7 separate regions of the Homo sapiens genome follow, and all the other regions are reported to be linked to region 3. The links are microRNA targets in miRTarBase. Many come from high-throughput screens and were not tested one by one. Region 3 holds a microRNA gene; each other region holds the end of a gene's coding sequence.

Region 1 (4,551 bases), not on the chromosome of region 3:
GGCAGGCAGCGCCTCCAGAACCCCAGGGCCTGCCCCTGTGGTCTCCCATCTCCTAGCTGCAGCTCAGAGAGCCGGGCTGACCTCAGACCCCGGCCTGGCCACTCAGGCTGGGGCTGGTCCTCTGCTCTCAGGCACCACCGTGGACTCTGCCGTCTTTGAGGACCTTTGTCCTGGTCACTGATCTGGCCACTGCACCTCTCCACAAAGGACTGGGTTTGGGGCTAAGGGAGGCAGGGGCGCTTCTGACAGGGCCTGAGGGGGCTGCACCCTTTCCTCCGTCCTCCCCCAGCCAAGGCACGTTCTGAGAATCCCCAGCATCTGCGGGGCATGGCTCCAGCAGCTCCTTGGCCGCGGGGCCCCGTCTTTCCTAGTGGGGCCTCCAATCTCCAGATCTTCCCCATCAGCCAGGGCCGCCCTCCAGCAGCGGAGGAGGAACTGACCGCTGTTCCCTGACCCCCTGCACCACCCACAGACGCGATGCGGCCGCAGCAGCTCCATGCCACGGAGATCACGTCCAGCGGCTTCCGCCTGGCCTGGCCACCCCTGCTGACCGCAGACTCGGGCTACTATGTGCTGGAGCTGGTGCCCAGCGCCCAGCCGGGGGCTGCAAGACGCCAGCAGCTGCCAGGGAACGCCACGGACTGGATCTGGGCCGGCCTCGACCCGGACACGGACTACGACGTGGCGCTAGTGCCTGAGTCCAACGTGCGCCTCCTGAGGCCCCAGATCCTGCGGGTGCGCACGCGGCCCGGTGAGGCAGGGCCGGGGGCTTCGGGCCCGGAGTCGGGGGCTGGGCCGGCCCCCACGCAGCTCGCCGCCCTCCCCGCCCCAGAGGAGGCCGGGCCAGAGCGCATCGTCATCTCCCACGCCCGGCCGCGCAGCCTCCGCGTGAGTTGGGCCCCAGCGCTGGGCTCAGCCGCGGCGCTCGGCTACCACGTGCAGTTCGGGCCGCTGCGGGGCGGGGAGGCGCAGCGGGTGGAGGTGCCCGCGGGCCGCAACTGCACCACGCTGCAGGGCCTGGCGCCGGGCACCGCCTACCTGGTGACCGTGACCGCCGCCTTCCGCTCGGGCCGCGAGAGCGCGCTGTCCGCCAAGGCCTGCACGCCCGACGGCCCGCGCCCGCGCCCACGCCCCGTGCCCCGCGCCCCGACCCCGGGGACCGCCAGCCGTGAGCCGTAAGCCGGCGTCCCCGCCCAGCCGAGAGGGCCGGCGCCTACCTGAGGGCCCCTGTGTCCCGAACCCGGAGCGGAGGCGCCCAACCCGGCAGACGGGTGCAGGCCCGGCCTTTCCCCACGCGGACTCCGCGCGACCCCGGCCCTCTCCCTGCGGCCGCAGGGCTTCCCCGCCTGGCGCCTGCCCTCCAGGGCTGGGGCCTCGCCTGGCGGGACCCCGCAGCAGCCCCGGCCCCATCCCCGCCCAGAGCCGGGCGTCGTGTGGGTCCGTGGGTGATAATTGAGAGCGTCAGACCCAGGACTGTTCAGGGAGGAGCCCCGGTCAGACTCCCACGTGTGAAGACCGGGCCCCAAGTGGCAAGGGCTGGCCTGGGGCGGGCAGCTTGGGTCCTGGACGTTGATAGGAAGCGGAAGGGGAATCGCGGGAAGCTGGCCCAGGTCAGGTCCGCAAAGGCTTCTGAAGAAGAGGAAGGGCGAGTAGGGGCACCTGGACGCTGATGGTGGCCAGGATGCTCAGCTGGCCAGGAGGGCAGCACCTGCTGGGGACGGTGGCCCTGCCTTCATGCCCAGGACACCAGCTGGGTCCAGCTAGCAGCCACTGGGAATCAGAGGAATGGGGCAGAGCTGGGCATTCAGGACCTTGAGGACACGTGACCCCACCCGCCCACCGCCACTATCAGGCCCCGGGACCGCACTGACAGGAAACCTTCCGTCGTGAGGGAGCACTTCCCAGGGGCCGCAGGGACGACACTCTCCAGGGAGGCCCCAGCAACCACACCATCTTCTTGCTGTGAGAGGTCTCACCCCGGGCTACCTCCTGTCACTACTCACTGCCCTGGGGTCCGTGGGCAAGTTGCCCAGGGTGGGGGTGCCTAGCCAGGTGCAGTCCCCGCCCCGCCTAGTCCTCGGCGTCACGCAATGCTCACCTCGCCTCTTCCCCACTAACATCCCAGACTTTAAAATTCAGTAAATCAGATGTACACCGAGCCTGCAGTCTCGCTAGGATGCTTTACTCCTCCACAAACAGCAGCCGCCGACAGGACAGCTTGTGAACGTCTCCGCCTTTTGGGGTGTCCGGGGAGAGGAGGTGGAGCTGTCCCCTCCCAGTGTCAGGCCTCCTTGGTCCTCATGTGCACCTTTTATTCAGAGAGCTTGGGCCCCCTTCCTTTGGAGCTGGGCCCAGGGCAGGTGGCTGGAATGCAGAGGACAAGGGGGCTGGGGCCTCTGCAGGGCCATTCCCACCGCAGTCTCTGCCACGGCCCGGAGCCCTGGGCCCAGGGCCACGCGGGCTCCCTCTGCTGGCAAAGCCACACCCTGCACCGCATGGGGTCCACTGCCCCTTTCCCCACGTGGACTCTGCGTGACCCCAGGAACTGCAGCATTGAGGTGGTCTCAGTCCCTCCCTCAGGTCTGGTGGGCATTGTGCCAGGGGCCACCTTCGGGACAGCTGGCCTTGGCACCGTCTCCCAAGAACCCAGCTCTGTGCATCCCGTGGCCCCACCAGAAACCCAAGGCCACACCGCCCACCAGCTGGGTGTGGTCACCATTCATGGAGGGCCGGCTGGGGCCAGGCTCACCACGCAGAGTTTGCCCTCCGGTGTGATGATGCATGAGACACAGTAGGCCCCCCTGCCTGTGTGTGCAGGGGGTGTCTGTGGGGGGGCCCTGCTGGCTGGACTTTGGGTTTCTCCTGAGCTCCCCTTAGCCCCCAAGTCAGGCCACGGAGGCCTGAGTAGGACCCATGGGCTGTGTGTGTCACTGCAGGTGGCGTGCTCACAACTGCACTGCTGGTCGGCAGGTGGCCAGGGTTGCAGGCCCGGGCCTCGGGCCCCACCTCCTCTGGAGGGGTAGGATCTCCTTCGTGCAGCCCCTGCCCCCTACCCTGTTCTCCGGAGTGTTGGCAGATCTGAGCCCACGGTCACGTGAGAGGAGATGCCTCTTGCACACTGAGCCCAGGCCCAGCTCACGGAGCACCCTGCAGGTGGCAGCGGGGCACCAGGGGCTCATTCCTGGTGGCCTCAGTGGCTTCTGTGGACGACTCAGACTCACATGAGAAGCTGGGAGGAGCTCCAGCTCTGCAATCCCGAGAGGGCAGAGCGGGGGCCCTGGCCACAACCCTGCTCCCCACATACCCGTCTGGCAGAGGCTCTGCCTCCCCTCTGCCCATCTCTGCACACCAAGGCTGAGCACAGCACAAGGCCTCACGGAGAGGGTGAAAAGGCACTGCCGTCTCCATCTCAGTGCCAAGGAATGCCCCTTTCAGAAGCCCTCGTCTGAGAAGTGCTGCCCCTTATGTAGCCCCAGGCATTTTAAAATCTTTGAATCTGCACCAAGTCTCAGAACAGCTCTGGCCCCGGAGTGCTCCGTCCAGGCCGCTGTGAACCGGCTGTCCCCGCGTCTCCTCCACCTCCCCTGACACAATCCTGGCCCCGACTCAGTCCACCCAGGGTGCAGTGCAGAGGCTGATACCCGCCAGGACTTCCTTGCCAAGGGCCCGGCCACGTCACAAGGCCACTGCACGCTTTTCGACATGCACCTGGAAATCGGGAAGGGCCATGCTGCAGTTGCTTCTAGTTGAGACGAGAAGAGCGACAAGGTTGTGATCCACGTGGCAGGTGTTCAGAAGGCTGGGGGCGGGCAGCGCTGGGGAGAGCCCTGGGTACTTCGAGGAGACCCCGAAGGGAGGCTGCTCCCACACCTGCGCCAGTTTCCACCCTCTCTGTGAGCAGGGCTGCGGTCACCTCCCACATCTGAAGAGAACCAACCTGAGGATTTCACGCTGGCTGCGTGCCAGACCAGTCCCTGACAGGTTGTGCGAGGCCCTTCGCTGGACAGCCCATTGCTGGCCACTGGACGGAGAGGCAGAGGGGGCTGAAATTCGGGCCCATGCCTCTGTGAGCGATGACGGAGCAACAGCTCTCCAGCACGTGAAGCTCTCCAGACAGCTGTTCGTGAGAAGCCAGACAGAGGCCTGGGGTCTCAGTCCAGATTTCTGGGGAGTGGGGTGTCCAAGCGTGGGCCACGCTGCTGGGAGCCACCTAGGGAAGCAGGTCGCCTGTTTCTATAGTGACGGTAATAAACCAAGTCAATTTTCTATAGTGACGGTGATAAACCAAGTCAATTTTCTATAGTGACGGTGATAAACCAAGTCAATTTTCTTTTCTTTTCTTTTCTTTTTTTGAGATGGAGTCTGGCTTTGTTGCCCAGGCTGGAGTGCAGTGGCACGATCTCGGCTCACTGCAAGCTCCGCCTCCTGGGTTGACGCCATTCTCCTGCCTCAGCCTCCCGAGTAGCTGGGACTAACAGGCGCCTGCCACCACGCCCGGCTAATTTCTTCTATTTTTAGTAGAGATGGGGTTTCACCGTGTTAGCCAGGATG
Region 2 (4,406 bases), not on the chromosome of region 3:
TCCTAGTCATCAGAGGGAGATTTTGTTGTTATCTCCCTCTAAAGATCACGGAACTTAGGCACAGAAAAGTAATTAGTCCAGGTTTGACGAATAAGTGACTAGTAGATGCTGAATTCAGATACTGGTAGTCTGGCTTCTAACTACTTCTCTAGTTAGATACTTCAAAAAAAGAGAAAGAAACAGCCTATATTTTATTTAACTCAGCAAAAAGTCCTTCTTATTTCATCATTTTGTTCTTACCCCTTTTTGTTTGAGTTTTAGATACTTTCTAGGCATATTCCTGCAAATATAATACCTATTAGGGGAACTCTGCATGATACTAATGATGCTCAATTTTTTTCTGTTGACAGGGGAGCCTTAGCATCATCAAATCTAAAATTCCAACATACTGCTCCATATGCTGTTGAAGAAGGGAGCCAACAAAAATTGTTTTTTCTACCTGTTGACGTGTCAAGCACTAACTGTGGGTACTCATTTATTTTATTCTTTTGTAAATCACAGCCACCATTCATTATTTACTAGGTTAAGATGAATAGACACTGAATCAAAGTTATTCATCAACAAAAAAGAACAGTTACTAATGGAAAGTTATTAAAATAAGTTCTATAAGAGTACAATTTTGAGGTTTATTTTTTGTATTTTTATTATTTGTGCGAAGAACCATTATTGAGTTTGCAAGATAAGATGTATTTGTATTTTCTAGTGTCTTTTTATTTATAACAACACTTTTTTGGCAATCAGTTTGTAGCTGTGCCCTTATTTTTATAGATAGTTTGCCATTTCTTGGGTTTAATGTTTAACAAGGCTATAGAAGTTTAAAATAGTGGACAAATGTTTGTGAATACACTTTTAAAAAATTGTTTTAAAAGAGAAAAGCGGTCTTGCTTTGTTGCCCAGACTGGAGTGCAGTGGCATAATCATAGCTCACCGCAAGCCTCAAATTTTTGTGCTCAGATGATCCTTTTCATCTCAGCCTCCTGATTAGCTGGGACTATAGGCGTGTGCCACCATGCCCAGCTAATTTTGAAATTTGCTTGTAGAGATGGGATCTCACTCTGTTGTCCAGGCTGGTCTCAGAATTCTGGTGAGTGATCCTCCCACAGTGGACTTCCAAAGTGCTGGGATTACAGGTGTGAGCCACCATGCCTGGCCCCATGAATACACTACTAATATTATTTGTAAATATGTATTTTATAATGTACAATGCTTGGAAAATTTTCAGAGTATTCTAGTTTAAAAAATTTTTTCTAATTCTGTAAATTCTATTACAAGTATGTTGTTTATTACAACTCATTACAACTACCTAAATTTTAGGTGTTAACTGTATTTAAGTAAATGTGTTATTTTTGCATTTCATAGCCAGAAAATACTGATGTTCACTTAAAGATATTCAGCAATTAAAATGTTAAAACTTGTACATGCATTCATTGATTTTGTTGTGCTTATGTTTAGCAATTTTTAAGAAGCTTTTAAAATATAATATAGACATAGTTCAGAATTTTGATGTAATAGAAGCAATTCCCTCTGGCTACAACAGCTGCCTGCCTGCTGGCCTTGCTTTTACCTGTTTTCATTGCATTGAGCACCATCCAGAGCTATCTGCCATCTAGAAAGTACTGTAAGATTTAATTAATTACAAAATTTCTTGGAAAAGACCTGTAACATAGACAGTAGAGTTATAAACATTTTATTTTGCTTTTATTTTTTCTTTTTGAAATACAAAATGTGCACATTGAGTTTACACAAACACGTGATGGCAAATTTCAGTGTACATGTATTGTACTACTCTTAATTTCTACACTGGTGATAGCAGGGCAGCTTTCAACATCCTATCTCTACACCAGAATAGATACCTGATTTATTGTTGCAAAGACAGTTGCAAATTTCCTCCTTCTGTAGCCTCTTGGTCTTTGTGATATTTCTACAAAACAGGGACGATGTGTGTGGCTTTAGTAATGTGGCAACTTTACAGTTTTGGCTAAGATGATTAAAAATAATCTGAATTATGATGAGCTAAATCATACTGTAATCTGGATTAGTTGTTGAGCACTTATTTTCTACTAAATCTTGGTAGTAGTTGTCAATGTAATGGAACCACTGGTGCTTTCAAAGTGAATTTTGCTTGCTAATTTTGCTTGCTGTTTGTTCTTAGTAGACAGTGGGGTAGTCAAGGTTTCTTTCTTTGTCCCTGAATGGCTTGTAATATAAATAAACATGCTGTAAGGAAGTCAGGGGAAAGAGGACAGATTTGGCCTTTAATGCTGTTAGGATTACTTGTTATTAAGCATTACTATATACTGGAGGATAGATATCCTGACCCTTTGCATATGTCTGTAAACATCCTTGTTTTGTTTGATGCCTTCTTCAACTTCCACTTAATGATTGATACTAATGATTGATACAATAGAAAACAGCCTGTAAGAAAGATTGAACAAATCCAAAATTATTATATAGGCCTTGGCTGTAACATATTATGGAAAATTAAATGCTTATTAAAATAAGTTTTATTAGGCATATGCTGATATCTGATAATAAACTAATTTTTAAATGTTTAATAATTTTTAAATGTTTAAAAATGCCAGATAAAACTAATTTCTAACAGAAGGTGGGAAGGCCATAGAAACTGGAACTATGTGTTTTTTTAATTGTTGTAATCTTGTTTCCTTAAAGTATATAAATGGAATTTAAATGGAATTACAGCATTCAAACATGAAAATTAATTTAATTTCTGGAAATTAAATGCAGATGTCACTATATTAGAAAACCATTCAAAATCCTAGGACTGAATACATACAAATGAGTAGCAAAAAACACTGATATTTTAAAATCACTGATATGTGAAAGCCTCAATAATCCCATGGCTAAGGAACCAATAAAACTATATGCCAGATTCTATTACTTTTGAATATTCACAGAGTATGAAATGAGTTAGACCATCCCCTGAACTCAGTGGCATTATGAAAAGGATGCAAATTTATAACTGAAAGCTCAAATCTTTTGGGGATTGCTTTATATTAAAACAAAGCTTGTTTGCATAATATGCTTCAGTGTCAAGCTGAGCAATCTATGCTAAAAGTGGTAGCTCCAACTTTAAGGGTGGTAGAATAGTTCACATTTGTCTGTTGGATTCAGGATCTATTTGACAAGTTAAATCACATTTTCAAAGAGCTGCATGGAGCGCATTATGTTTTCATCCTGTAAGGGAGAAACACAGAGCGATTAAATTCAGCATATCTGCAAGGAAAAGTACACTATTTTGCCCCTGAGTATTGCCTCCTCCCATCAACCACCTCAACCACCTATGCCAAAAGCTCAAATATTAAGTGTTTGCAAATGTAAATGCCATTCTATTCTATCCATTTTCCACATAGATGACTATGAAGGACCCATTTTATATTTTGTGGAGTCTATTGACCAGGCATTAAACCACTTTATTTAAATCTTTACTTGGTATTAATAGAGGATATTTCTCAAATCATAATGCCAAAATGGAAACTACAGAGGTGCAGAGGTGTGTCAAAGCAAATGAGAATTTTGGCATTCTATGTAGATCACAGGCCAAATCACACAGACTTTTATACAGGTACAAGGAAAATTTGTGTGTATGAGCCAGCAGTTCATGAAGATTGGAGGCTGGCGCATAGGAGGCAGGGTGGTGGATTAAGAGGTAACATGTTTGCAGTAATCATCTCTCTTTCTGTCTGCTAGTTATGGCTAAAGCTGCATGGCCTGAAGGAGCCTTTAAAAATGAATGGTCTCTCAATTACAGAGAAAGAATTGGGGAGCAGAAACCACTGCTCAGTGGCTGTGTTCAGTTTAGCATATTCTTTAGAAATGAGTTAGGGGACAGACTTTGGGCATTATTGGAGCACTTGTCAGTTGCATGTGAATAGCACTTACTGAGCTGTTTATGGTAGTGGTAAATGGTGGCTGAACCAATAATGGCTTCCACTGCTAGAAACCAAGTAACATCACCGTCAAGCAGCTTAATGTCACCAAATTAATTCTCTCAAAGACCACTGCATGGAAATCCAAGTTGAGAGACAAGCAGACATCCAGAAAAGTAAGAACAACAATTTAAAAATAAAGAGAAAAACTAAAGAAACAACGGATTTCTTTGTTTTCAGGATTATTTGAAAAATTCTTTTTTTCTTTTTTTAGTTTTGAGGCAGAGTCTATTTCTGTTGCCCATCATTCTGGAGTGCAGTGGCACAATCATGGCTCAACAGGGATCAAGTGATCTTCCTGCCTCAGCCTCCCAAGTAGCTGAGACTTCAGCCACGTGCCACCGTGCCCAGCTAACTTAATTTTTTTTTGTAGAGATAGATAGGGTCTTGCTATGTTGCCCACATTGGACTCAAAATCCTGGCCTTAAGTTATCTTCCCGCCTCAGCCTCCCATAGTGC
Region 3 (4,551 bases):
CAAGCTCTGCTTATCAAAATAAATGAACAAAGGACGCCTCTGACACAGCAGTTCCCCCACCCCAATCTTTTTTGTTTTAGGAGCCACTTTTTCTCAGCTACTGCTCCTACCAATCTGATGATCTTCAGCGGCATCCCTATCAATTTGGGTAAATTAGCAAGCTTCTCCTCCATATGGAGCTGCGGCCGTAAATCACAAATATGAGTGTGTGTAAAATTATATAGCATAGGCCCAGTGTAATAATAAACACATTTATATTTTATAACTGCTGTTTTCTCCACCTTCAAGCCGCATCATTGCCTGGGCCCCAGAGGTTCCTAAGCACTCCCCACCGGCTCCTGTGTGCAGCCGTCTTGCTTTGTGTGCAATTTCCTTCCCCCTCGTCACAGACCGCTATCTGCCAAATGCCAGCCGGCTCTTCTTTGTGCTGCGGTGGGCAAGGAACCATACCAGCTCACAGTTCTCTCTGCAGCAGAACACAGACACAAATGAGCAGGTGACCTCTCAAACCGTGTCAAAACGGACCCTTGACCCAGAGACCTCAAAACTTCAGTGGGTTCGCTGTCTAAATCACCCAACTAAAAAGACCTATGTTTGCACAACGTGATTGTGTTTACACAAAGATTTAACGCCTCAATAGAGCAAAAGCTGTTCAGTTAATTTTAATTATTGCTTTACTCTTCTCGCAACAGATTTTTAAAAAAATGCTTAACGGTGAGCTTGTGGTAATTGATCCCACAAGCTTTGTACCTATGGTCCTTGTAGCTCATACAATGACAGGAGTGGGAAGGATGTATGAAAAGTTTTCCCTGGCTGCAAAGGATTCTTTCTGGCTTTGCTCATTAACTATTCTTTTTGGATAAGGTGCACACCAGGAAAACCACAAAAACAAAAATAAAAACAAAAACAAAAACTTTAACATCTAACCATGAGAGGGGGGAGAAAGATACACAGGTGGATTTGAAAGCATTCTAAATGCTTAGTAGCCAATTATCAGCAAGGAAAAGGCTATTATCAAATTGGGTTGGGGGCCCCGCCAATTCTAACGACTTATTAAGATTATTTCCACGGCAGGTAGAATGAAATAAAAAGGGGAAGTTTGAAAATACAAAGATGTACAGGAACACAGGATCACACACAAAAATATCTACAGACAAACAATCCTCAAAAGAGTGGAGCCCTCAGGGGTAATGTGTGTTATTCCTTCAGCCTTCCAGGAATTTGTCTTTTGGTGTTAATACCTTTTCTTTCCTCAGATCTCTGGATATAATATAAATGCCCATCACTCTGAGGTTCCTGTAGATCCTTTTGGCAGAATGCTAGAAAGCAGCTATTCTTCTTCACTGTGTGCTTTTCTGAATTCAGAGGAGAGACTGCTGCACATAACAAGCAAAATCATAACCTGAGTTTGGGATCTTTGCCAATGAATAGATTTACAATTCCTGTATTTACCAAGGGTTTTTATTCTTACGACTTCTAACCCATTATAAATATCCTCAACTGGGCAAAAACAAAGATAAAATAAAATTATCCTGAATTCCACACTTATCATACAAACAAAAATAAAGGCACATAAATCATTTCTTCAACCTCACCTAGCAAAGCTCTGGTGTAACTGAGAGGAGCATACAACTCATACACCAAGATCCACCCATCCATAGATTCCTTTGAATTCTTTAAGGCATCTCCATTTGGGTTTTCCAGCTTAGTAATAAAGAGGATTGCTAAGATGCATTCTTTCAAGGGGTTCAGAGAAAAGTTTCTATTTGCTATTTCTCATCAAGAATTATCTAAAATATGCAAATGCAGTAGTACTGAGATACCACTTCAAGAATCAATACCTTGCGTTTGTTTGCATCTTCAAAACCAGCTTTCTTTCTTAAAATAGGGGAAAACCAACTAAGATCAAGGATTCTTAAGTTCAACCAAAATAGACAGAATGTAGGAATATACAAGATAATCACTCAGTTTTCTTAGCTATTCTGAATTAGTAGTTATACTGAACAAGTAAAATAACAACAAATAGCCATTTATTTTTCTGAACCATAAACAAAACTGAATTCATTTATATTGTTTCAACTTAGGCCCCCAAAAGAAATAACTGATCTCTAAAGGAAAAACAGAGTAGGGCAGGCTCTGTGATGGTTCAGCAGTGAAATCTTTGAAAAATGATTCTTTCAGCCTCAGTTCCCTTATTTGTACAATGGGTATAATGAGAAGACTTACCTCATCGGTAAGTGAAGGTTAAATGGAAGGATGTATGTGAAACACTTGGCAACTGTAAAGATCAATACAAGTGATATTATTATTGCTTACTTGGGTAATGCACTAACATAGAAGCAGCCATTCCCAGGCTTGGTACCCAATTGCCTTCTTACTCCCAAAGCTGATCTGAGTAGGAACGCCTCAGCTTACCCTTTCTTTAGCACATCTGCTCTGGGAAGCTGACTAAGTAACCCACTGCATCTTCAGGCCATCAAGATAATATTACTAATTCCCTACTGGATCTAAAACTAAGGTCCGATAACAACTGTGATCCAAAACATGGCACTTAGCATGACCCCACAAGGCCAGCTCACTAATGGCAATCTCTTCAAGTGGCAAGGGATAAGCTAATACATGTAAAAGCCACAGATGTCACGTGCTCCCTACAGCCACATTCACATGTATGAGAGGAATAAAGTCAGCAGTATTATCTCCAAACAGCAAGGACAATGCCATACGATTATAATAGCATATTGTCCATTGTATCTGGGGATGACACGTCTGACAATGTTATTTTCTATGCACGTGAATGTAGCTGAAAGGGCCAATGCATAATTCACAGCTCCTGACAAAATGCAGACATAAAGTATGTGTCCATTAGATAAGGCAATTTAAATCCTTTTACCTGAAATAGCACCTTTCTCCCTAAGAACTCAGAAAGCTTCCAGTATGCTCCTCATGGTGCTGGTGCGAACCAGAACAGTGAATAGTAGGAAATGTACTGAGGCAGCAAATGCCAGCGCAATATACAGTTTTACCAATAAAAGTTTTATTTTCCCACGGAAAGCACGTCACTCTTATTTCTTCACTAACAGTTAATCTTCTTTTTGGTAACGAGGAAGCAACTGTTACATTTCAGCAAGGCCACTGTACCCAGGGGGAGAATGACAATACCATATGATGGTGTGGCTCTTCAGTGCGTGGTCAGCTAGGCCCATTTCCTGGCAAAGCACCTCCCTCCCACGTACCAGCCTGGCAGCTGATGTGATCAGACCTCTGCCTCAGCAAAATCTCAAATTATTACAGGTCAGGAGCCTTCTGCAAAAGGGGAGGGCATGAGGCTCAGGAAGAGTCACAATCACGAATCTTCAATCTAGAAGGTTAAGCATTTAGTGGAGGTAGGGAGATTTCTTTCTTACCATAAGGGGAAAAGCGGCACATCATCTAAATCCTGACAGAAATAATAAATAATGCAATATTTCCATTTAGTCAATATTGTTAAAGATCATAAAAGGGAAGAAGGCAAGACCTGGTGGGTAGGTCATCTTAAAAGGATTAGGAAACGTTTTGCAAGTGGATCAGAGCAACCTACAGAGAAGAAGACAGCTAAGGTTGCATTAGGCCAGGGTTTCTCAACCTTGGCACTGTTGACCCTTGGGCCCACATGATCCTTTGCTGTGGAAGTTGTCCTGGGCATTGTAGGATACTTAGCAGTATCCCTGCCCTCTACTTCCCAGATGCCAGTAGCATACCCCCAACCCCACATATGACCATGAAAAATGTCTCCAGACATTGCTAAATGTTCCCTGAGGGAAAAAATCTCCCCTGGTTGAGAACCACCACATTAGGCAACTAATGATCTCACATTTTGGGAGAGTGGCTGGACCAAAAGATTTGCTGTCACACATAATGGCCTCTTCAGACATTGACAGGATGTCCCGATACCCTCCTTGAACCATTGTGTGACTCTCCCATTCCTGCTATGCCCTTCTTAGCCTCAGAAGTTCTTAAAAGTTCAGGGAAGGCCCATCTGTGTGGAATGCTCTCCCAGTGCGCACAGGCCACATAAGGTTTTGAGCACAGGGTGTCCAGCTACAGGCTGAGAGGGGCTGAATCTGGCTCTGCTCCTCAAGCACAGGGAAGCTGCCCCACGCAAAGGGTACTTTTTCTAATTCACACAAAAGCATATTGTGGCTTAGCAGCAGCCCTGCTGGGGGACTAGCAGCCATCAGATTCGTCCTTTCCAATTCTGTCAACCGGTTTGCTTGATGTCAAAGCTAGCAGTTTTGTGTGGCCATGAGAATTAGCAAAGCAGGTTTTCAGGACTGAGGAGAACCAGGGGTTGAAGCAACTCCATGGAATACCTCCTTTCTTCATTCCCCAAAGCATGCTTGCTTGTATGCCTGCACTCTCACTATTGTTTTAAACATGGAGACATCAAAAGAAAAAAGATCTGCTCTCCAAGAAGAGTACGATGAGAGGAAGCCTCGGAAGTATGCACTGATGTTCATTTATCACTGGGTTAATAACCATGACCACCTTCAGTCTTCAAAGACCCCTGCCCTG
Region 4 (4,551 bases), not on the chromosome of region 3:
CGTCCCAGTCACTGGCAAGTGCGTGCCTGCAGGTCTGTGACTCCTGCAGCACCTCTCTCAGCACCTGGGGAGCCTGTCCCAGGAACACCATGGCTGCTCAACACTTCCTTGAACATACAACGTTTCTTTAGTCCAGTTTACAATAGAAAGTATTATATCATAACGAAAACACTTTGGACCCTTTATCTGAACTGTAATAACTTGGTTATTATACAACAAATATGCATTGAACATCTAAGTAAAAGCAACTGTTCTATATTAGATCGCTTTTCAGTAATCTATTTTTCAAAAAGAATTCAGTACCATTTTTGTCCTCATGTCGGGATTCCAGGATCTTTCTATTGTATCTAATCATGATCTAAATCCCAAATCTTGAGTGTTTTAAGTACTTATCTGTGATTTTTTTTTAATGTCCACTGGAAATAACAAGAGTGATTTAAGACTGCCAGTCCAACACGACTCTGTATTGTATCTATTTTTTTTTAAAGAATAAGTGGCTACCCACCTGTCCTTATGAGAAACTTGAAGAAAGCTAGAGAAAAATTATCCAACATTTGAATATGCCAGTGCATTTATTTATTGGAACCACCCTCTGTGAAACATACTTTAAAAGTGTAGAACTATAGACCAACTGTTAAGCAATTTATTCAAGATCAAGCCCTTAAAGGACAGGGCTGGGCTCCTAGATTGCAAGGCTTGGCCTCTGAGCCATCTCTCTTCACCAGTTGTCTACACCAAAACTGAATATGAAGAAATCCAGGATGAGCAACTGCATTTCATTGAATCTTCATTTCTATAACTTAATTTGCATTATTACCTCCAATTAATATAGAAGTGAAAAATTAGCATGAAATTTTATATAAGCAAAGACTCAAGCTATTTTTATTGTCACTGGATGTTTATTAAGTATTTTAGTTTCATAACTTATTTTCATAAACCTTTTGTTCACTATTTGTTTGGGTAAATCTCATCAAATTTAAACACCCGAGACTCTTAAATGTTCTGGAGTTTTGTGGGAAAATAAACACCTATTTGTAAGTATTGATATGTAAAAAGTTCAAATTTTAGTATATGACCAACTACAATTTGCATTTCTCTACCAAGTAACCCTCTATAATGGAATTTCACTGTAAAACAGACACTTATGTCCAGCACAAATAAAGTTCACAATAATTGTTTATCACAAGTAAACAATCAGCAAACTTAATGTTTTACTTATAATAAATACATGCCATATACTTAGATTCTAGAAAGTCATCACTCACTACTTCTTTGTGGTAGGTAGCTTCACAGAGACTGTGAAACAGATCATGGAAAGAAACTGATTTTACCATGTGCGAAGTTAAAGGGAACCACGTATCACTCAGCGCACGGTGGCTCACGCCTGTAATCCCAGCACTGTGGGAGGCCGAGGTGGGCGGATCATGGTCAAGAGCTCGAGACCATACTGGCCAACATGGTGAAAACCCATCTCTACTAAAAATACAAAAATTAGCTGGGCATGGTGGCACGCACCTGTAGTCCCAGCTACTCGGGAGGCTGAGGCAAGAGAATCGCTTGAACCCGAGAGGCAGAGGTTGCAGTGAGCCAAGACTGGGCCACTGCACTCTAGCCTGGAGACAGAGTGAGACTCCATCTCAGAAAAAAAAAAAAAAAAAAAAATGAAAACTCCAGCCGGGCACGGTGGCTCACACCTGTAATCCCAGCACTTTGGAAGGCTGAGGCAGGTGGATCACCTGAGGTCGGGAGTGCGAGACCAGCCATGACCAACATGGAGAAACCGCGTCTCTACTGAAAATACAAAATTAGCCAGGCGTGGTGGTGCATGCCTGTAATCCTAGCTACTGGGGAGGCTGAGGCAGGACAATCGCTTGAACCTGGGAGGCGGAGGTTGCGGTGAGCCAAGATTGCGCTATTGCACTCCAGCCTGGAACTCAATCTCAAAAAAATAAAAAATAATAAATGAAAACTCCACTGACCCTTTCAATATGTGGGCAAATCAATGTTAGATGCTAGTCTAAATCAGAGGTCAGCAAACCCTTTCTGCAGAGGGCCAGAAAATAGTTTTGGCTTGTCAAGTCAAATGGTTTCAGGTGCAACTATTGAACTCTGCCGTTTTGCAAAAGCAGTCAGACAATACATACGCACATAAGCACGGCTGTGTTCCGCTGAAACTTTATTTATGGACACTAGAATTTAAACTTCATATAATCTTCAAACAGATGGTGGGCTGAACTTGACAAGTGGGCAGTAATTTCCTGACCCAGGGTCTGAATACAGATTCTTTTTTGACACGTATTTATTTGCTGGCAATTAAGTAACTTCTACTTCATTATTAATAATAAGTGAGAACAATAATACAAAATTTGCTTAAGGCTTTGTCTAAATTGCTGGTGTATAAATTTTTAAGACAAATTTTAAAAGTTACTTATGTCAAAATTAAATATACTACTAGAGGAACAAACTGGCCAAGTTTCATTTATTTCTTCACGTAACATTTTTACAGCTCACATACAGCAGGAAGCACACCTTTGCACATAATTGTGACATTAGCTTCACAACAGCATCTGCTGACTGCACTTCCAATTATAATATAACAAGTGCAAGTTCATTTGGAAATGTACATTTATACACCTGATATAAATTAAAGATGGGTACACTATGATTGGTGATAGCAAAAGCATGACTTGAGGTTCCTTGACTAGACCACTTAAGAGAAGTGTACCCAAGCATTTTAAAATGGCCATTTGGGGAACAGGCCAATAGATAAAATATCTGTCATGTAAAATTTAACCATTTACCTTTTTAAAAAATAATCTTCAAACTTTAAACCTTTGTTACTGAATTGTTATATGGATATACATCATGGCAGCAAGAAACACATTTACTATAGGCTGTATTTTTGGCGACATGGCCAATTAAAAAAAATTGTTCATAAAGTAATAATATTACTTGTATTAAAATAAAAAAGCTAAATGAAATATTTTCCTTCCACATTTAATGTGTTAGGTTGAGTTTAGTCCCCCTCCTCCCGCAAGAAATCAGTCTGAGACTTAAGTGTTGAATCAAACCTATATTTGTAGTTTCTAAAATGCTGATCCACAGACCACTTTCTTGTTACACGTGTACCAATGAAAACAAAAGGCAAACAGAATCACTGCCATCCCTATGAAAGGAATGGTTCCTTTACTAACATTCTTTAAAAATATACATTTTACACTCCTTGCACCTCAACAAAGGCAGCAATGTAATAAATACACGGTTTATTTTGTCCTCCTCACACCAGGCGCCTGTCCACAAACTACCTGTTGTAAGCCCTCTCTTTTTTGGATTTCTCCAGGGCTTTGTCCATGGTCTTCTCGTTCTCCCCCCGGCACTTGGGACAGTACCACTTGCCCTTGGGTTTATGATTGAGCCCCACGCACGAGAAGTGGAACCACTCGATGGGGCACTCGTCGTTGTCGCAGCCGATCATCTCCCCATAGGAGACCTGGTTGCACAGACAGTACGTGGGTTCGTTGGGGTCGATGGGGAGGTCGGCAGGGGACGCCTCTCGCTCCGCCTTGGCCTTGGAGCGCTTCTTCTTCTTGGAGGTCTTGGCCTTCTTCTCCTTGGGTGTGCCCGAGGCGCCGTCGTCGTGGTCGTGGTTGCTGGACGCGTTCTCACGGTTCTCGTTGTTGCGCTGCCGCCGTGAGCGCTTGCTGTTGGGCTTGTCAGCCTGCGCTGCCGCCTCGCCTTTGGGCCTGTCCGCGCCAGCCTTGCCGCTGTTGCCCGCTGTGTCGCCCAGCTCCTGCTGCGCCTCGAACAGCTCCACGTGGCTGTCCACCTGCCGCGTGCGGTTCTCCACCAGCTCCACCATCTGGCTCACGATCTGGATCTTCTCGTCGCCCAGCTCCTGGCTGCGGATCAGCGCGCGCTGCACACAGTGCAGCATCCGCCGCTTCTGCGCCCCGTCTGTCTCGCGACTGAAGCGCTCGTAGCACTCGTCTAGCTCCTTCAGGATCTCTGGGGGCAAGAAGGACAGGCGTCACTCGCGAGCAGGACACCGGGACAACCCACACGGCCCCGGACGGGTCTACGGAGAGGGCTGGCAGGGAGCCTAGGGGCCAGCGCACGGCTTGCCCAGAACAAAGCCCACCAGCCACAGGCTCTCCCGGGCCTATCTGTTCCTGTGCTAACCACAACACAACACAACACAACACAACACAACACAAATGCCGGCCCAGCTTCCACAGCGGCAGGAGCCGCTCCAGCCACCCCAGGGAACCTGAGAACAGTTCCCAGGCACGCACGGGTGACAACGCCCGAAGCCATTAAGAGGAAACGTTTAAATGAGGTGCAGTGCTCGGGACCCAACATTTATTAATACTTTCTATTAATGACTATGTCTATACTGCCATCATTTTTACTCAAATGTTTCTATTTGAATACAATTATTAATATACATATAACATTATATAAACATGGTATTTATTACATTTATACACAATATACAAACATTAATAAAATATATTATAAATTATTTGAATATTTCAAATAAAAAAGGTCTTT
Region 5 (3,000 bases), not on the chromosome of region 3:
CTTATTTAAATTTTAAATAAGAGATCTGAATTTGTACCAAGATTTCATGAAAAAATTTGATGTTGTTTATTGCAAATACAATTTAAACAAGTTTTTTTTAGTGTTTGTACACAATTTGTCAATTTTTCAATATTCAATTTTCTGTACAGGTACTTTTGGGACAATTCTTATAGTTACATAATGTGAATTCATCAAAATGCAGTTAAGAAACTTACAGGAATATATACACTTGAACCCAAGACCCAAACCTGACATTATATACAACCTATTTACAAATACATATGGACAGACAATATATGTACATAGATTATCATAAATATTGAAAAATAGGTTAGCTTTAATGGATTAATGTTGTTCTATAAATAACATTACAGTTGTAACTGAAACATCCACGGAAGACAGTAATGCAAAATGAGGTGACAAGACAGTGGTTTTAATACTGAAGACTGCTCATTAATGGGAATTCATTGTTCAGGAACCTCAAGGTAGACAAGATAGCTCCCAGAAAATCATCCATTGGAATTTTCCCTAGGCACTTGATTTTGAACCTTAAATAGCCAGAGGATTGGAGGAGCTTCCTCACATTAATTTGCTGTAGAGAAAAGAATTTTTTTTCCATTCCTTCCTGGTTGCCACAGTATCTTCTCCCATACAAAAAAAAAAAAAAAAGTCTGTAGAAACAACTCTTGGTATTCCCTGGCAGGTCTTAGATACAAAGTCAGCAACTCTTTCCAGGAGCTCATGCAAATTTGCCAATTCTTGGTCTCAACTAGAGGTGAGGTTCTGCATTCGAATGGAGTGCCTAAAGCCCAATTAAATGAAAGCAGTGCCGTAGAATCTGTCTTCCCACTGCCTTTCTATTTCTAGATGGCCCCCAATTATTTTATCTTCATAGAAACAGACAAAAATGGACCAACGGTTTCACCCAATGTAGCACTACAAGACGTCTTCCAGTTCCATAAGGGTCTTTAATTACACATGTATCTTGTTTGTAAATTTAGTCACATATAATACAAGAATGCGTAACAAAAACCATGTCTCCACATTTCTGGCCCTTGCCCCAAACAACATTTTTAGTTCAAGGGCAAACCTTACAGCCAGATGACCAATTGACAATTCCATTATTTGCTTCCTTCAACCACTTAATGGAATTATGTATATTAGATTTTAGACATTATGCCTGATGAGCGAAGTACCACATTATTTAATAATATATTCACCATACACTGTGACGTACGATAAATGTGCTCTTAAAGCCAAGTTTCAAAGTAATTATTTTCATTTCTAACTGGGATTGAAATGGAAGGGTTGACATGCAGTTGGACCAAAATGACTACTAACACTCAGTTTGCACTGTTTTCCCTAGCTAACCATTTGTTGGATGTAAACAAGTAATTCTACGTTGTACAAGAATGAGATGACAGTCCAGTGCAAATGAGTTTTTATAAAGCTTACTGCATGAGAAACCCAGTGGCCTACGCAAAGAGAACTTATATCATATCAAACATAGGTGTAACCTGTGGATTAGACCTCTACTGTAGACAAAACATGAACACAACTAAGCCATACATTGTCAAGTAATTCACACTTCCAGTAGGTGAGCATTTTGAAAAAGTGTACTCTCTGGACACAATAATTTTGGCCTATTGCCATCAAATGCCCATTTTCCACTGCTGGAAGCAATGTCAAAAAAGGGCTGGCCCAAAAAAAGACCCAGAGCTGTCAATACAACACTGGAGACAGATGCAACTGAATAAACCCTGTTTTACCCAATTGCACTATTTGGTACCTCAAAATTAGTTATTTTATTTCCCACAGAAATATCTGCATTATCTTCCATTCTAATAAGTTGAAGACACAAACATTTCAGTCTGAATGAACCAAATTGTTTGGGGACAGAGAAGAAAAGTGATGAACAGAGTTCATCTGATTTGGTATAGCAATAATCAATCATCTTTTAAGTAATGGTGACGTTTAAATGGAAAAAACTATGCTCCTAATTCATGGTACAATTTTTCATTACATCATTTTCTCTAAAAATTATTTTGGGTAAAAAAGTATTTGGCTTATTATGCCTACAAAAAGGCAAACCATTTCATTATATTAATATTCATTTTTAAATACCAATGACATTATTTTATGGAATTTATTGATAACTGCTTCTGAATAAAGTTCAAAAAAGCAATTTCTTAAAAGTAAAAGAGTGCTTCTGAGGTCTTTAAGTATTTTTGGTACAAAAAATAATAGTGTTTTTGTCAATGGTTATTCAATATTTTGCTGTAAATTAAAAAGAATTGTTTCTCACATCAAATGGTTCCATTAGGCACATTCAAGTAAAATCATAAAATATCCAAGTTAAACAATGACACAGCCAAGCATGTGGCTTGATAAAAGTTAAGAGTTTGTCCATTCTCTGGAATGGAATAAAATTGTCACTTCCCTTAACCCGAGACTCGTGGTTTTGTTGTTCATATCCATTTCTAACATACAGATAAGTTTCTTAAAAAAACAAAACAAAACAAAAAAGTTCACTTATTCTGCACTCAGAAGAACCAGCGAGGAATCTGCACTTCAAAAGGAAGTGAAACTGAAAACATTAGGTGAAATTTCATAGTAGTTGAGTTTACTCAACACTGGCATCAGATGGACTGAGTTTGAGTTTGAGTGGTGCCAATTAATGGCCACCTCCAGGTGCATTGTGTACCCAATCCAAAACAATCAAGGCCATGCTTCCGGTCATCACCAGTACACCACTTAACAGGAAGAACAAAGCCTGCAAAGAGCATAGAGAAAATTGATCAGCAAGTAATAAAACATATATGCTAAACATTTCTTCTATTTTTTGAAATGTGCTTTAATTACTAAAATCTATCCACTATATAATCTATAGAAAGAATATTTAACTTGCTAAATATAAACTCCTAAGTGATCAGTATGTTATCTGCAGTACACAATAACTACCTTTGAGGCCTTCTGAACTTTTTCACTTTTTCATTCCTT
Region 6 (4,551 bases), not on the chromosome of region 3:
GAAGGCCATATATGGCCCAATCAGGCCTTTGTCCATTATCCCAACATCATAGATGGCCTGACAAAATAGCTGCTCGCTCATCAAGGCTGAGCGGACGCCCAGTCTTTGGGTGCTTCAAATATAAAAAACAGCAACAGTGGTGTCTTAAGCACAGGATTAAAGATTGAGTCATTTGACTGCGGTGTTTTTCACCTCCCCACCCGATTCTCCGGTTAGCTACTCAGAGGCAGCCTTGGAGGTCAAGAATCAAAGCTGACTTAAACCACAATGAGCACCCCCATGAGAGGCCCAGCCGGCCTCCGTGGGACAGAGATGTCATTTGAAGCACAGCTGATTCATTCGTGGGGTTAGGGGAGGTGGGTGGGGGTCTCTAGGGCCACTCGGTAAGGGCAGAGGGGCCGTTTTAGGACTGCTGGCCCCCACCTTGTACTCCCAGAAGACATAGAGTTTGGGGTTAAGTGTTGGGGGTGCCCATTGGAGGGACAGCAGGGCCCAGGTGCACTCTGCAGGACCAGGGTGGCCCAGCACAGCAGCAGCGACTGTGCCCTGGAAGCCTGAGGCCCTGGAACGCAAGGCCTAATGCCATTCCCGCTGCGTTCATTGTTCAGCTTCCCTGCCCTGCCCAGGCAGAGATGTGGCCTGAGAAAGTGTGGGGAAGAGGGGCCCAGGCTAGACAGGGAGGAGCCTCCATTGCTTTTGCCTTGGAATCCTGAGCTCAAAGCACAGGCTGGCACACAGCAGGGCTCACGAAATGCTGAGTGAGCAGAAGAGCTCTGCAGCCAGATGACAACATGGCCTCCAGGAAGGTGTGGCACCAGCCCCAGCCTCACTTTCCCCATGTGTCTGTGAGGCTCACAGGAATGGCCCACCACACAGTGCTGGAGGGAAGAGTTGGGATAACTAATGTGTGCTCTAACCCACTTTACAAATGGGAGGGAACAAAGATTAGAAAATCGCTGCCATCTGCTATGTCTGAAGCCTGCTCACTTCACTGGCACTATTCTAGTGTAACCAATATATAATCTGAGCTTAAAAATGTATATTTTGAATTAATATTAAAAAGAAAAAATTCGACTCCAATACTTTAAATTTTCTAAATTGATTCTCATGCAAAAAATATATATATTTTCTATCACCATCGAACTAGACACTGACTTCACAGCAAGAGCTACTAAAGCTGCAGGTTACCATTCAAGTCCCCCCAAGAGAAAAATAAAGTAAATCAAATGTTACAGCATTCACAGCTCCTAACTTGCATTTCCTACTTTGCTATTGTCCCTGAATGTTATAATAGCATTTTGACCTTTCACAAGTGGGGAATGCATGAATGTAGAAAGAAGGTCATTTCGCACATTTTTCTATGTGGTGCACATTCATGCACAGGTGGGTCAGAGCTGTGTGTGTCTCTCCAGGGCTCCCAGCCTCCCAGAGGACAGATGTGCAGGGCAGCTCTCAGAGCACCCAAGTCTATGCTGTCTTGGGGCAGGAGCCTGATGCAGCTGCTGCCAGCAACCCCGTGGAGCCGTCTGCTTCTGGATCACTAAGCAGAGTATCCACATGATGCCTGAAGCCAAAACCATTTCAGAAAACAGCAGTGCAGTCTACAGTAGTGTCAGACTCTCCAGAGTTTCAATCCACTGCAGAACATTCTAGAACACTGACTTCACTGTCATCTCAAATTCACTGGACCCTCAAAGGCAAAGACTCCCTAGAAGGCCATGTATGAAGGCTGGGGCCTGCCCTGACTCATCCTCACTGGTTAGCTCTAACCTGTCCTTCCATCTGGCCACACGCACACCCCAAGGCAGAAATGGGGCTCATACCATTGGCATTAGAACTTAGCAGTATTATTATCTGCCAGATTTTTCAGTCTCCTCATAACTCTCCTTACAGGATCAGATTTATCACTATCCAACTCTAAGCGTGTTTAGTGTGTCTTTCTGTTCTGCTGACCCATACCCTACAGGGTGCTGTACCCTGTGGGGTCTCACCAGAACAAGAGCCACGCTGCCAGCAAGCAAATGGATCCATCTATTCTTTAAAGGGCATCTGTGAAAATCACAGGGCAATCTCAGCCCAGATAGTATTTGAAAGGTATAAACATTGCCAGCTTTCTAACACCAAATGACTCCTCAGGAAATGACAGTATTTTACCTGGAAGAAAGGGAGTCAAGACAAAGAGTGGGGGCAGGCACATGCTCTTCCCTGCAGCAACGGAGAAACCTTGTTGTTGGGACAGCAGGCCTTTCCCCCATCCCTCATGCCAGAGGCAGTACCTCAAATGGATTCCAGTGACTCCTGGGTTTCTGGCACATGCAGCCCCAGAAGCCTCAATACCTGAGTCTTCGGGACTGAGCTCTGGGATGGGTGCCTGCTCTTGCTGTCACACAGGCTTCTCCCCTATTGTATAAGGCGGGCGGGGGACTTTACTAGCAATTACCATAAGCAGCCTGTAGTCAACCGCTGACTAGAGGGAGACACAAACCAGGAATTTGCCCCGACCACCCTTCTACAAATACCCATTTTAGCATTAGATACATGAGAACAGGGAAGCACTTGTCAATCAAAATCTTGGTTGGTGAAGCTTATTTTGTGCCATTTTGGCATGAAATGAATTCCCAAGTACTCCTCGCACAACTGGGGTCAAGGGTGGCGGGGCCCTGTGCTCAGCAGGACCCGGAGAAGCTGGAGTGCCACCTGTTCTTTAGTGAAGCTGCAGCGAGTTGTGTAGACACCCCAGGCACGTGGAGTGCAGTGCAGGGAGCACAGGAGGTGTCCCAGGGAGGCCAAGGGAGGATGCCCGCTCCCACCAGCAAGCACAGCCATGCCTCAGAACCAGTATCTCATAGCTTTCAGTGCAGGGCTAGGCATGCTCTGAGCAGCATGCCTTGCGATTCCCTCACAATTCTGTGTTTCTATTCCCCTCCAGTTGTGCTTATTAGGTAAAACTGCAGGCTACACCTTCCTAGTGGCATTTCCCGGTGGGATGGGTCAGTTGAATTAAATTTTTGCCTGGACAACTACAGTTAAACTTATTTTTTTTTTTCATTAAAAACATACAGCACAGAACATTAGTCTTACATCTTTCTTAGTCTTAAAAAATATAAATATAGAGGGATAATTTGTACAGGATGTATAGGTATGTACACCTTTAATATGCATATGAGAAATTCAGAACCAAGTTTATGAAACTTGACCTTAAAGGAAGCCTTCCTTTTGAAGCTTTTGAAGAAGGCTCTGAGCCACAGGCAGCTGTCCCAGTTCCAGCAGCCCCGATTCTAGTCCACTCCAGGTCCTCCTGACCTGGTGCGCAGTGCTGGGAGCAGTGCTGGCCAGGTCACTGCTTCCTCTCCACTGGCTGCTGGAGACACAGCTCACTCCCTGCAGAGACAATGGGCAGGCTGCTTTCTAGGTGGTGGTTGATGAGGTGGCTGATACTGTCAAAGACTCTGTCCTTTGTCCGGATCTATGAATGAAGCAAAGGAAAGGTTAAGCACATCTCACAGGCAGCAAAAAGAGAAAATGGTTTGCTCAGAATCAGCCAGACCATCTGAACTGGCCCAGAAGGAAAGGAGGGGGGGACAAGGGGCTTCCACCACTTTAGAGATGCTGTCTGCAAAGAGCAATGGCCAATCCATTTCATTGGTTGGGCTCACCTCCAAACTACCTGAAGACCTTTCAGTAACCATAAGCCCAGGCCCCTAGGACTCAGTTCTGGAATGTCCCAGCCCACTGTCCTATAGGCATGGCCTCCTCCACCTTCACCAACCAAGGTCACCTCACCTGTCTCTCCTGCTCCCTCCCTGGCCCTCTCAGGATAGCCCTGAACTGGGCTCTGCAGGCTCCCATGACCCTCCCACCTCTAGGCCTTTGCATGGACATCTCCCGGCCCAGAATTAGTGTCTTCCACCTGAGCCTGGCCCTACCTCAATGCCAGCACCTCCAGGCAGCCTTCCTTCCTCTCCAGACATCCTGGGCACCCACCAGGGGCAAGCCTCACAGTTCCCCAGAGGAGCTCCTGTTGCCCCTGCAGTCCCCCACTGGAGAGTGAGCCAGGCTGGGTCAGAGGTACAGGCTCCGTGTTCCTGGGCTTTCAATTCTACAGCCTGCCCATAAACTTTTAATGCCATGTCAGGGGAGAGGAGGTTGAACACTCTGCCCTGCTTGCTGGCCTGCACTGTGGTCCCTGGGGTCCATCAGCCGCCTCCACTCTGAGCCGGCACATTCACAGATATCACTCACACTTGAAAAAGGTGGAGTGGGGCCTGTCAGGAGCAATTTTTCGAGGAGGTCTGGACACAATCTCCTGGGAGTTGCATGTTTGATAAGTGGGAGATGGGGGCAGAAAGCAGCCACCTGGCTAGGTCCATTCACCCTCACAGGCCACCCTCGCGGCTATGCTCGAGGGTCAGCTGAATTCCCTGGCTTTGCTCTCCAGCCTTAGCAGTGGTCTCCTCTCCATCAGTGTGTGCAGATGAGTTTCCAGGAGCCCATCCTTTCATGGGACACCCAGCTCTCCTCGCCCTCCTGCAGGGACTCCTGAGGCAATGT
Region 7 (3,123 bases), not on the chromosome of region 3:
AGGCCTGGCCTCACAGGGAGCAGGCAGGCACTGTGGAGGGTACCAGTCATCACCACAGGAGCCTGTCACCCCCGCAGGCGTGTCCACGCACACACGCCACATGCACAGTTCAGGGGCCCACGAGGGCAGGCTCTGGCTGGCACCGGCCTGGCCAGCTGCGCCATGTCAAGATGCCCCACGAGGCGGCCCAGGCCTCTGCCTGATCTTGATCTGAGGCTGTGGAGGGGTTTCCCTAGTGTCCCATGGACTGACTGTGTCTCTCTGTCCCCACCCGCCCCTGCAGTACGAGTACAGCTTCCGCACAGAGCAGAGCGCAGCCGCCAGGCTCCCGCCCAGCCCCACCAGGTGTCAGCAGATCCCGCAGTCCTGAGGAGCCAGCGGCCACCTGCGGGGAGACCACCGCCGCCCAGACTACTGACGGCAGGGGCTGCTGCCCCCGCCTCCTCCTGCCGCCTCCGCCAGCCCTCCCTCCCACACTGCCCCAGCAGGGCTGGCCCGGAGACTGGGCAGCTAAGTGGGCGCATCCTGTCTTCAGCTGGCCTCACTGACACCCCGGCCTCCCTGGGGACATTGTTCATAACCATGACTAATCTGTGTGTGCTGTAGTGACCAGCGGCTCCTAACGTGTCTGTGTGATGACCAGTTGTCCTCCAAAAACCTCACTCACCACGGAGTCACCCTGAGGGCCCCGGGCAGTTGCCCTGGCCGCCCAGTGACGCCCACCGGCTCCCTCCGCTCCCTCCTGTCACCTACCAGGGCAGACCCCACTAAGCCGTTGAGTCTCTTCCTGGAAGACCCTGAGGGCCGGCAGCTTTGCCTAGGACTCTCCAGGGTCGCTGATCCTCCCCGGCCCAGGGCTGCCAGGAACAAGTTCCTCTCTGCAGGATCTCACAGCAGCCCTGAGAAGACATGGGAGGAAGAAGCCAGTGGCCCTGGGGTGGACCCTGCCCTTTGGACATCCCATGGACTTGTCACCCAGTCGCCTGGAAGTCGGGGAGCAGCACCCCTGCCCCCGGTGGAGGGGTTGTTGCTTTCTGGGGAGGAGGACGGTTGACGGCCCTGCTTGGATCCACCACCAGGACGCTGTGCTCGGCCATGGCGCGCCTCCCCCAAGGGCTCATCTGTGCAACAACCACATGCCAACAATAGCTCCAGGTGCCTCAGCCCCGTGCCCTGACCCGGGGACCACAGGGACACCCTCTGAGACGTGCTGGCCCCAGGAGGATACAGGCACACGGGCACCCAGCCCCTCTCAGAGCCAGGCGTGTCTTGACGGTATCTGCTGACGGGAACAAGTCATTCTGAAAGGTCCCTCTGACCCAGGTCACCAAATTTGGGCCAGAACTGGCACTTCCGAGTGCCCACTGGTGCTGGCGTCCTCAAAGTGCCGGGCGCCAAGTTCAGCCCCAGGTGCGTTTGCCTAGGCAGTGGTGGCTGCCATCCCTCGGGGCCCAGGCCCTCACCCGAAGGGCTGCCTCACTCTGTGGTGTCAGGCACTGGGCTGTGTCCTGATTCCTCAGAGTATGGGGACCTGACATCTTTGGGTCCCCAAGAGTTGGCTCTTGGATGTGGAGGCTTGATGCTGCGGTTGGGGGCTGCACTACCTGCGTCCGTGGAAGCCTCTGCCTCAGCGGGGACGGCCTCCTGCTGCAGGTCCTGGGCAGCCCACAGTAGTGCTAGCTGAGGCCCAGAGGAACGGGAGGAAAGGGAGGCAGCGCCGGACGGCGCAGCTGGCCAAGAGGCGGGCGGGGCCAGAAATACCTCATGCCCCTGCACCAGCCCCTCCGTCTCCAGGCCCCAGGCCTCTTTGTGGACCCATCTTCCTCCTCTGCCACCCCGATCTTCACTCGGATACCTCTTGATTTCTGTGGATAAGGGAAGCGGCCACTTCTCCCTCCCTGAGACCCGAGGATGCCCCTGGTGGGGGTGGCCTTCTCAGGACTCCTGGGTGGCACAGCAGCAGGACCTTGTCATGGGACTGATGCTGAGCAGGGAGGGGGCTGCCAGGCTGGCTGCCGATGCTCCGTTCACATAAGCCAGTGTGGTTCTGGGGACCTGAGGAGCCCTGTGGCACCCACAGGGGGCACCTATGTCTGCCGTGGCTCCTCGGGTGGTGCCCTGTGTGACAAAGCCCAACAGCAAGGGTGACTCCTGGCAGGTGGGGGCAGCAGGAGGGCAGAGGGCAGAGCTCTGGCCACTTCTGCCCACTTCATTAGGGTTTGTGAACTTTGTCCTTCACCTCTTTTCGTGCCCTGGTTGTGAGATTGCCTCTAACAGGTAATGCCAGGGGCCCTTCACTCCGCCCCCATGACTGGGAAGAGGCCTGTGGCAGCGCCGCTGGACCCTAGGAGGCTCAGAGGCAGTGGTGTGGGAGCCCTGTCTGCAAGGACGCAGAATAAGCAGTGAGGGCGGCTGCAGGAGAGGAAGGGGCTCCCACAGCCCCCACTGATGCCGCTGCAGGCCCCTGTCGAGCTGGGGTCCCAGCCAGGTGCCCCCGCATGCCCTCCTGCAGTTGCTGGATGGATAGGGACACCAGGAAGAGGACAAACTGCATGGACTCAAGCGAGCTGGAGCCATCTTCTCCATAGCATTACGGACTTAGCATAAGAGTAAATGACTGTGAACGTTGTAGTAAACGGCAGCTTAAGATAAGTAAGCAGAGACAGTGTTAAGGACGAGTTGGTGTCTGTGGTAGCTTTTAGGCTGCTCCTAACCCACCATTTATTGCCTTCTGAGAGGTGGGTGAGGACAAGCATGTGCCTGTGTGTGTGTGTGTGTGTGTGTGTATATGTGTGTGTGTGCACGCACATGCGTGTGTATAAGCCCACCTGAGTGGGGCTCGTGCAGGAGAACTGAGGCATGAAACTCTGGCTCAAACCTAGGAATTGAGAGCGTTTCTGTCTTTTGGGAGAGTACTTTTCTCCACGAGCCCTCTGGCCACTGTGGGAGGGAAGGACAAGGGTTCCCTTGGAAATGTGAAGGGTCTTGGCCTCATCCCTCAGGTCCCCCCACAGCACTTCCCACTACTGCTTCTGTCCCTGCTGGCAGCCTCTGTCCCTCCAGAACGGCTAACCAGAGCACACTGTCCCCACCGCCTCCCCTTTCTCTCTGGAAAGTTGAAGT

Evidence for each region. Region 3 holds the annotated microRNA hsa-miR-2355-3p (AUUGUCCUUGCUGUUUGGAGAU, at 2,695-2,716, opposite strand). A microRNA usually pairs through its seed, bases 2 to 8, with sites in the 3' UTR of a target mRNA and lowers its output. Matches are read on the target gene's strand: a 7mer-m8 pairs with bases 2 to 8, a 7mer-A1 pairs with bases 2 to 7 and ends in A, and an 8mer does both.
Region 1: miRTarBase lists VWA1 as a target of hsa-miR-2355-3p. Seed matches in the 3' UTR shown: 7mer-m8 at 2,376-2,382.
Region 2: the mRNA of PACRGL is a reported target of hsa-miR-2355-3p. Seed matches in the 3' UTR shown: 7mer-A1 at 826-832.
Region 4: miRTarBase lists ING1 as a target of hsa-miR-2355-3p. Seed matches in the 3' UTR shown: 8mer at 3,268-3,275 and 8mer at 308-315.
Region 5: miRTarBase lists SLC38A2 as a target of hsa-miR-2355-3p. Seed matches in the 3' UTR shown: 7mer-A1 at 2,402-2,408.
Region 6: the mRNA of SHC3 is a reported target of hsa-miR-2355-3p. Seed matches in the 3' UTR shown: 7mer-A1 at 28-34.
Region 7: the mRNA of MVB12B is a reported target of hsa-miR-2355-3p. Seed matches in the 3' UTR shown: 8mer at 2,541-2,548, 7mer-m8 at 2,746-2,752 and 7mer-m8 at 2,953-2,959.

The regions. Positions count from the first base shown.
Region 1 is chr1:1,438,609-1,443,159 of GRCh38, forward strand. It overlaps VWA1 (von Willebrand factor A domain containing 1), which reads left to right. Exons shown (of 3, transcript NM_022834.5): 3 at 473-4,274. The coding sequence ends at 1,179. Among named protein-coding and RNA genes, the nearest start is that of VWA1, 5.2 kb to the left of the region's middle. RefSeq lists enhancers at 2,205-2,254, 2,871-3,020.
Region 2 is chr4:20,726,935-20,731,340 of GRCh38, forward strand. It overlaps PACRGL (parkin coregulated like), which reads left to right. Exons shown (of 9, transcript NM_001258345.3): 9 at 351-4,406. The coding sequence ends at 407. It overlaps KCNIP4 (potassium voltage-gated channel interacting protein 4), which reads right to left. Exons shown (of 9, transcript NM_025221.6): 9 at 1,672-3,195. The coding sequence ends at 3,148. Among named protein-coding and RNA genes, the nearest start is that of PACRGL, 29 kb to the left of the region's middle.
Region 3 is chr2:207,107,305-207,111,855 of GRCh38, forward strand. It overlaps MIR2355 (microRNA 2355), which reads right to left and starts at 2,769; the gene lies at 2,683-2,769. The region is part of intron 2 of KLF7 (KLF transcription factor 7); the gene reads right to left.
Region 4 is chr13:110,718,683-110,723,233 of GRCh38, reverse strand. It overlaps ING1 (inhibitor of growth family member 1), which reads right to left. Exons shown (of 2, transcript NM_198219.3): 2 at 1-4,005. The coding sequence ends at 3,302. Among named protein-coding and RNA genes, the nearest start is that of ING1, 7.3 kb to the right of the region's middle. RefSeq lists an enhancer at 3,273-3,964.
Region 5 is chr12:46,358,437-46,361,436 of GRCh38, forward strand. It overlaps SLC38A2 (solute carrier family 38 member 2), which reads right to left. Exons shown (of 16, transcript NM_018976.5): 16 at 1-2,773. The coding sequence ends at 2,675. Among named protein-coding and RNA genes, the nearest start is that of SLC38A2, 13 kb to the right of the region's middle.
Region 6 is chr9:89,010,110-89,014,660 of GRCh38, forward strand. It overlaps SHC3 (SHC adaptor protein 3), which reads right to left. Exons shown (of 12, transcript NM_016848.6): 12 at 1-3,466. The coding sequence ends at 3,338. Among named protein-coding and RNA genes, the nearest start is that of S1PR3, 21 kb to the left of the region's middle.
Region 7 is chr9:126,502,894-126,506,016 of GRCh38, forward strand. MVB12B (multivesicular body subunit 12B) reads left to right here. Exons shown (of 10, transcript NM_033446.3): 10 at 284-3,123. The coding sequence ends at 370. Among named protein-coding and RNA genes, the nearest start is that of NRON, 94 kb to the left of the region's middle.